Linked DNA regions of Homo sapiens. The protein of the gene in region 1 interacts with the protein of each later gene in a pairwise test. Each region holds a gene or a part of one and is shown in the gene's direction. Other genes may lie near its edges.

Region 1 (3,271 bases):
TAATCACATGGTATTTTATTCCTCCGTCAGACTTTAGCTATATAAAGATGAATCCTTTCCCCCATTGACTTCATAATCTAATGACAGAGATTTGCAGTTCTAAGGAGGATGTGATATAGAAACTTTAAAAAGGCTCTTATAAGGGGATTATATAATGTGTGTATGTATATGTGTGCATAATATGCATGTATAAAAATTTTATGTAAGGGTATGCATAATAGCAGTTCTTCATGTAAGGGATGGAATCTCTGTCCTACATCCAGAGAAGTGAAAAGTAATTTCTCATTCAAGGAACAATATTAACAGAAGTTTGGCTGGCATATATTTTATTTTTAGTAAATAAATGAAAACACTGGAAAAACATTGTGTAATCCTTGTATTTGATACTAAAAAATTTATGTTTCATCTGGCAGTCTTTCTTGATGGATACCTTAAAGCATCCATTCCATGTAATAAATTAACTTTTCTTCTATTTATCTAGAATGATGATATCAAGGTACTCTCATGGAAAGAATTGAGAAATAGTCACTTGAAGAATTTTCCATAGAGTTGACAATGGAAACTTTGACACCTCAAAGCAGAAATTATCAGTATGAGGGACCACTAAGGAACATGAAATCCACCAGGGTGTCACTGGGCATGGAAACTTGAAGTAATAAAAGAGATAAAAGCCTGTTCCACAGCAGGGGCAGGAGTCATTCTAAAACAGAGAATAACTCAAGAGGCATTTCATAGGTGTACTATGTGGAACTAATTCATGGATTTGATATCAATTGAGGATGAAAAAAATTTTGGAGATAAACTTGATGTGTTATTATTCTGATATTACATTGGCCAAGTTAAGAATCTTGGAGGAAAAACACTTGATTTGTGTCCTCTTGACCATTATGATAGTCTGCTTTTTAAAAAGTAAGGTATCAAATACTAATACACATCTAGGTCAGGGATCAGCAAAATATAATCAATGAGCTGTAGTTGATTATATAAAATATATATGGGAAGTTAATGACTTGAATTAAGGTCATGTTGGATTTTAGTTATGTATAGGAAAAGAATGGAGAGTTTTCAGCAAACAGACAGTAATTGAATCTCTAAGAAGGTTATCTTAATGGTGAGTAAGAGAGAGCCTAGTAGACCTTTTATCCAATATAGGTGATAAGAGAGTCTGTCTCCTTCAAGGACTCTTGGTAGGGGGAAAAAATATGGCCACATGAAACTGACATACCAAGTCAGCTCTGTCTATGAGCTTGAAATCTGAATTCCTGCCACTGTTGTGTTTCAGGAATCTCAAAATATAGAAACTGATCCTGAGTAGTGATAAATTTTATATGGTCAACTATAGCCCACAGATTTTTTTTCCTGCCCTCTCAACTAGATTTTCATTAGTATTCAATAAATATGTTTTTAAAAAGCAGACAATCCTAATGGTCAAGAGTATAGACACTGGAGCCAGATGCCCAGGTTTGAAACCCATCTTCACAACACTTATCTATGTGACTTTAACAAATTCTTTCACTTCTCTTTGCTTTAGTTTTTTTACATGAAAATTGGGTGTAATAACAGTAAATAAATAAATCATTAGTAAGTAAATAAAATAGCTTACCAGCAACTATTAATATACTCATGATACACTTTTTATATTTCTTTGCTACATACCTAGATCCTATATGCTGTCATTATATTTCAGTATTTTGCATTTATATTTGCATTGTGAGATGAATCTATGGTTTTCTTTTTAGAATGCTTTTACCAATTAGTATTGCACTCATGGATTTGAAAGTTTAACATTATACAATACCAATTTATTATTTCCAAATGTTGACATTTTATTATAGTGATTTTCTATTCCAAAATGTCTACAATTTAGCTAAAAATTATCTAGTCCTGCTAATTTATTGGTTGAAGATCATTATTTGCATTTCTTATCCTTGCCATAAAAAATGTATTCTCTACTTTGTTAAATTTCTTGCTGTAGTAATCAAAAAGGGCAAATGTTAATATCTTTATCTGTATAGTGTTGAGTTTACGGTGGCTAGTAAGTTGTCAGCTGCATTTTTCATTTTTTTAAATTTCAGAATTAAAAAATAAAACATAAGAGTTTTCATTACTAGCTTCAAATGCTTCAATGACAGCTATTAGCAGAAAAATACTAACATGTACAAGAAAGGATTTGTATTAGTTTATTTCACCACAGTAGTATTTCATTACACATAATCCCTAAAACTCAGCAGCTTGCAATAAGTGTTTATACTCATGCTTATGGGTGTGTAGGTCAACTGTGTTTCAGTGGATGTATTTAAGCACTGACTTAGGCGCATGTTAACCTCAATCTGCTCCAGGTAGATTTGTTCTATGGCTGTAGCAGCAGCAGCTACCTGAGTCATGCTTTTCTAGTGGCTTGTCACTGAAGATCATAAGCCAGGCCAAAGCACTTAGCCAAGTTTAAGGACACTACTCATGTCATATCTGCTAACACCCGTTGTTCAAACAAGTAACATGGCCAAGCCTAATTATGAAGGAACAGGAAGTATACTGGCCCTACAGAAGGAGAGGGAATGAAATGAATATTTGATGAACAGTATTATGCTATCAGCTTCATATTAGATGTTTATTTCTAGTATTTTACAAACTATCCACTTGTACTCAAATAAAATGAGTCAAGTATTTTTAGATTCCCCACATTTATTTAGCTGAAAAGGACACTCCTCTGTTAATACAACTATATGTGTACATAGTTTTGTGAATTTCAGCTACATTCAGTCCCCACCTGCCCTCCTAGAGGAGTTGCCTTAGTCTGAGCAAAGTCCATTCAACCCTATATGATGGCCCTGGGCTTTCCTCAGGCAGAATTGTAAAATTAGGAAACTTCTACTTCGGAGCTCATTTGTTCATACACTCTTCATCTTTTATTCACACCCCACTAGTTATCCACTCTCAACCTCAACCCTTGGCGTGGGGCATTTCATCAAGTTACTTATTGGTATTTGCCTTTACTCCAAACTGCTAATCTTTTCTAGGTGCTTAGCATTTCATGTTTGGCAACTCACAGTGGGTAGTAATAAGCCTTTTCATCATATTTAATCTTTCAGTCTGTGTAAACTGTGCTTCTCCTAAAGCAGAAGTCTAATAGGAGTTTTGTTCATTAACTTCCTGATGGCTTCTAGAAATGTCATCAAAGAAACATTTCATATTTATATCCTTTTTTGCTTAAATTTTCTTTTGGGTCAATTCAAATAATTTATTAATGTCTATATTAATATAAAATAGAAAT
Region 2 (3,807 bases), on another chromosome or scaffold:
GCACCCGGCTAATTTTTTTGTTTTATTAGAGACTGGGTTTCACCATGTTAGCCAGGATGGTCTCGATCTCCTGACCTTGTGATCTGCTCACCTTGGCCTCCCAAAGTTCTAGGATTACAGGCGTGAGCCACCGCGTCAGGCCCTCTTTTTGTATAGTAGAGATGAGGTTTTGTCTTGTTGGCCAGGCTGGTCTCAAACTCCTGACCTCAGGTGATTCACCCACCTTGGCCTCCCAAAGTGCTGAGATTACAGGTGTGAACCACCGTGCCTGGCCTTGACCTTTTTTTTTTTTTTTTTTTGAGACGGAGTCTCGCTCTGTCGCCTGGGCTGGAGTGCAGTGGTGTGATCTCAGCTCACTGCAAGCTCCGTCTCCCAGGTTCACGCCATTCTCCTGCCTTAGCCTCCCGAGTAGCTGGGACTACAGGTGCCCGCCACCATACCCGGCTCATTTTTTGTATTTTTAGTAGAGACTCGGTTTCACCGTGTTAGCCAGGATGGTCTCAATCTCCTGACCTCGTGATCTGCGTGCCTCAGCCTCCCAAAGTGCTGGGATTACAGGAGTGGGCCACCGCACCCAGCCCTGGACCTTTTTTTTTTTTAACTTTTATTTTGTATTTATTTATTTATTTTTGAAACGGAGTCTCGCTCTGTTGCCCAGACTGGAGTCCAGTGGTGCGATGTCGGCTCAGTGCAACCCCTGCCTCCTGAGTTCAAGCGATTCTCCTGCCTCAGCCTCCTGAGTAGCTGGGATTACAGGCATGCACCACCATGCCCAGCTAATTTTTGTATTTTCAGTAGATACAGGGTTTTGCCATGTTGGCCAGACTGGTCTTGAACTCCTGACCTCGTGATCTCCCCACTTCGGCCTCCCAAAGTGCTGGGATTACAGGTGTGAGCCACCACGCCCGGCTGACCTTTTTATAAAAAAAAATTTGCTGGGTAGGTGCGGTGGCTCACACCTGTAATCTGAGCACTTTGGGAGGCCAAGGTGGGATGATCACTTGAGCCCAGGAGTTTAAGACCCTCATTTCTATTATTATTATTACTATTATTATTATTATTTTTTTTTTTGAGATGGGGTCTCGCTCTGTCGCCAGGCTAGAGTGCAATGGCACGATCTCGGCTCACTGCAACCTCTGCTTCCTGGGTTCAGGCGATTCTCCTGCCTCAGCCTCTCGAGTAGCTGGGACTACAGGCGTGCGCCACCACGCCCAGCTAATTTTTTGTATTTTTAGCAGAGACAGGGTTTCACCATGTTGGCAAGGATGGTCTCAAACTCCCGATGTCAGGCGATCTGCCCATCTTGGCCTTCCAAAGTGCTGGGATTACAGGTGTGAGCCACCGTGCCCAGCCTGGAGTTTCACTCTTGTTTCCCAGGCTAGAGTGCAATGGCGTAATTTCAGATCACTGGAACCTCTGCCTCCTGGGTTCCAGTGATTCTCCTGCCTCAACCTCACGAATAGCTGGGATCACAGGCATGCAACACCAAGCCCAGCTAATTTTTGTAGTTTTGGTAGAGACCTGGTTTGGCCACGTTGGTCAGGCTAGTCTCAAACTTCTCACCTCAGGTGATCCACTCGCCTTGGTCTCCGAAAGTGCTGGGATTACAGGTGTGAGCCACCACGCCCGGCCGTTCGTTTTTTTAATAAAAGAAGAAAGTTAGATCACTTGGGGCCAGGAGTTCGAGACCAGCCTGGCTAACATGGTGAAACCCCTTGTCTACTAAAAATACCAAAAAAAAAAAAAATTAGCCAGGTGTGGTGTACGTGCTTGTAATCCCAGCTACTCCGGAGTCTGAGGCGTGAGCATCGTTTGAACCTGGTAGGCAGAGGTTGCAGGGAGCTGAGATTGTGCCATTGCACTTCAGCCTGGATAATAGAGTGAGACCTTTCTGTCTCAAACATAAAAAATTAAGAAAGAAAAGGCCGGGCGTGGTGGCTCATGCCTGTCATCCCAGCACTTTGGGAGGCCAAGGCGAGCAGATCACAAGGTCAGGAGATCGAGACCATTTTAGCTAACACGGTGAAACCCTGTCTCTACTAAAAATACAAAAAAAAAAAAAAATTAGGCGTGGTGGTGGGCACCTGTAACCCCAGCTAGTCGGGAGGCTGAGGCAGGAGAATGGCGTGAACCCAAGAGGCGAAGCTTGCAGTGAGCCGAGATCGCGCCACTGCACTCCAGCCTGGGCGACACAGCAAGACTCTGTCTCAAAAAAAAAAATTAAGAAAGAAAAAAGCGACGGCGAGACTCTTGTCTCAAAAAAAAAGAAAAAAGAAAAAAGTCGTAAGAGAAAATATATTTCCTATTTATGCAGTGGAAGCGGATCACCATAAAGAGCTTCATCCTCATGGCCTTCACCTTGAGTGGGCTGAGGAGGAGGACGAGGGGCTGGTCTTGTTGTCTTGGGTAGCAGGGGTGGAAGAAAATCCACGTGTCCGTGATCATACATAGCTCACTCCTGTGTTGCTGAAGGGTCACCTGTCATAGAAGAGGGAAGAATTGTGTGGCCTGTGCGGATTCTGCATTCAGCCTTGTGTGTTGTGTTACGGTTAACCAGGGACGTGTGCCCCACTAATAACTCTGATTCCTGGAAGGAATGGCATGGCAGCCTCCGTTGTCATGGTTCCTGGAGGGAATGGCATGGCAGCCTCCGTTGTCATGGTTCCTGGAAGGAATGGCATGGCAGCCTCCGTTGTCATGGTTCCTGGAAGGAATGGCATGGCAGCCTCCGTTGCCATGGCAAGGCAAAGCCATGGCAGCTTCCTGGTTATCACTCCTGGCATGTGGTAGGTGCTTGTCCAGTGAAATCCTAGTCGTTGCTGCATTGGCAGGTGCCCTGGCGTGAGGAAGGGCAGGCAGTCACCATGCCCTTTGCTCTCCTGGGCCCTGCATCTGCTTATGGATGAGGCTGCGTGTAGCTGACATGCGTGTCTCTCCTGCATCTGAGTAATTGTCGTCGTCTTTTTTTTTTTTTTTTTTTTGAGATGGAGCTTCGCTCTTGTTGCCGAAGTTGGAGTGCAATGCCACGATCTCGGCTCATTGCAAACTCCACCTCGTGGGTTCAAGCAGTTCTCCTGCCTCAGCCTCCCGAGTAACTGGGACTAAAGGTGCCCGCAACCATGCCCGGCTAATTTTTTGTGTTTTTAGTAGAGACGGAGTTTCACCATGTGAGCTAGGATGATCTCGATCTCCTGACGTTGTGGTCTGCCCACCTCGGCCTCCCAAAGTGCTGGGATTATAGGCGTGAGCCACCACGCCCGGCCAAGTGATTGTTTTATGTTTATTCTGTTTTGGGTTGAACTATAGTTTGCTTGGAGAAAATAATGTCTGTTAAATTTGCGTTAGAGGATAATTGTTTACTGAGCCAAATAATCTTTCTTGTGAGAACCTATTCTGGGTTTCCCCTGGGCCCTCTGCTGTGGTTTCGGCGGGAGTTGGTTTGTGTGGATTTTCAGGACTGCTGACTTGATCAGACAGGCACAACACAGTCCCGGCCCTCAGGCAGGCCTTCTCCCTGGTCTGATGCTGAACTGCATGGCGTCTGTTCAGATGAAGATTCTTTTGCCACCTCCTTAAATGAAAGAACGATACTGAATGTGGCTTAGAAACAGCTTTGCCAGCCGTGCAGAATGATTGTAAGTAGTGGTTGCCCGAAAAGTATTTGCTTGGAATACCACTCACTGATAACACTGGTGAACCTGGAAGGAATTATACGGAGTGAAAAAAGGCACCACTCACTGATAACACGAATGAACCTGGAAGGAATTATACGGAGTGAAAAAAGGCTCCGCTCACTGATAACGCGGG

Evidence for each region. The genes of interacting proteins can lie anywhere in the genome.
Region 2: the proteins of PLSCR1 (region 1) and SPG7 interact in a two-hybrid assay, tested with the Homo sapiens proteins (one large-scale study listed by BioGRID and IntAct).

What each region holds. Positions count from the first base shown.
Region 1 is NC_000003.12:146,517,391-146,520,661, reverse strand, and holds part of PLSCR1 (phospholipid scramblase 1), read left to right. Parts: intron 1-3,271. UniProt on the Homo sapiens protein: Catalyzes calcium-induced ATP-independent rapid bidirectional and non-specific movement of phospholipids (lipid scrambling or lipid flip-flop) between the inner and outer leaflet of the plasma membrane resulting in collapse of the phospholipid asymmetry which leads to phosphatidylserine externalization on the cell surface.
Region 2 is NC_000016.10:89,514,656-89,518,462, forward strand, and holds part of SPG7 (mitochondrial inner membrane m-AAA protease component paraplegin isoform 1 precursor), read left to right. Parts: intron 1-3,807. UniProt on the Homo sapiens protein: Catalytic component of the m-AAA protease, a protease that plays a key role in proteostasis of inner mitochondrial membrane proteins, and which is essential for axonal and neuron development.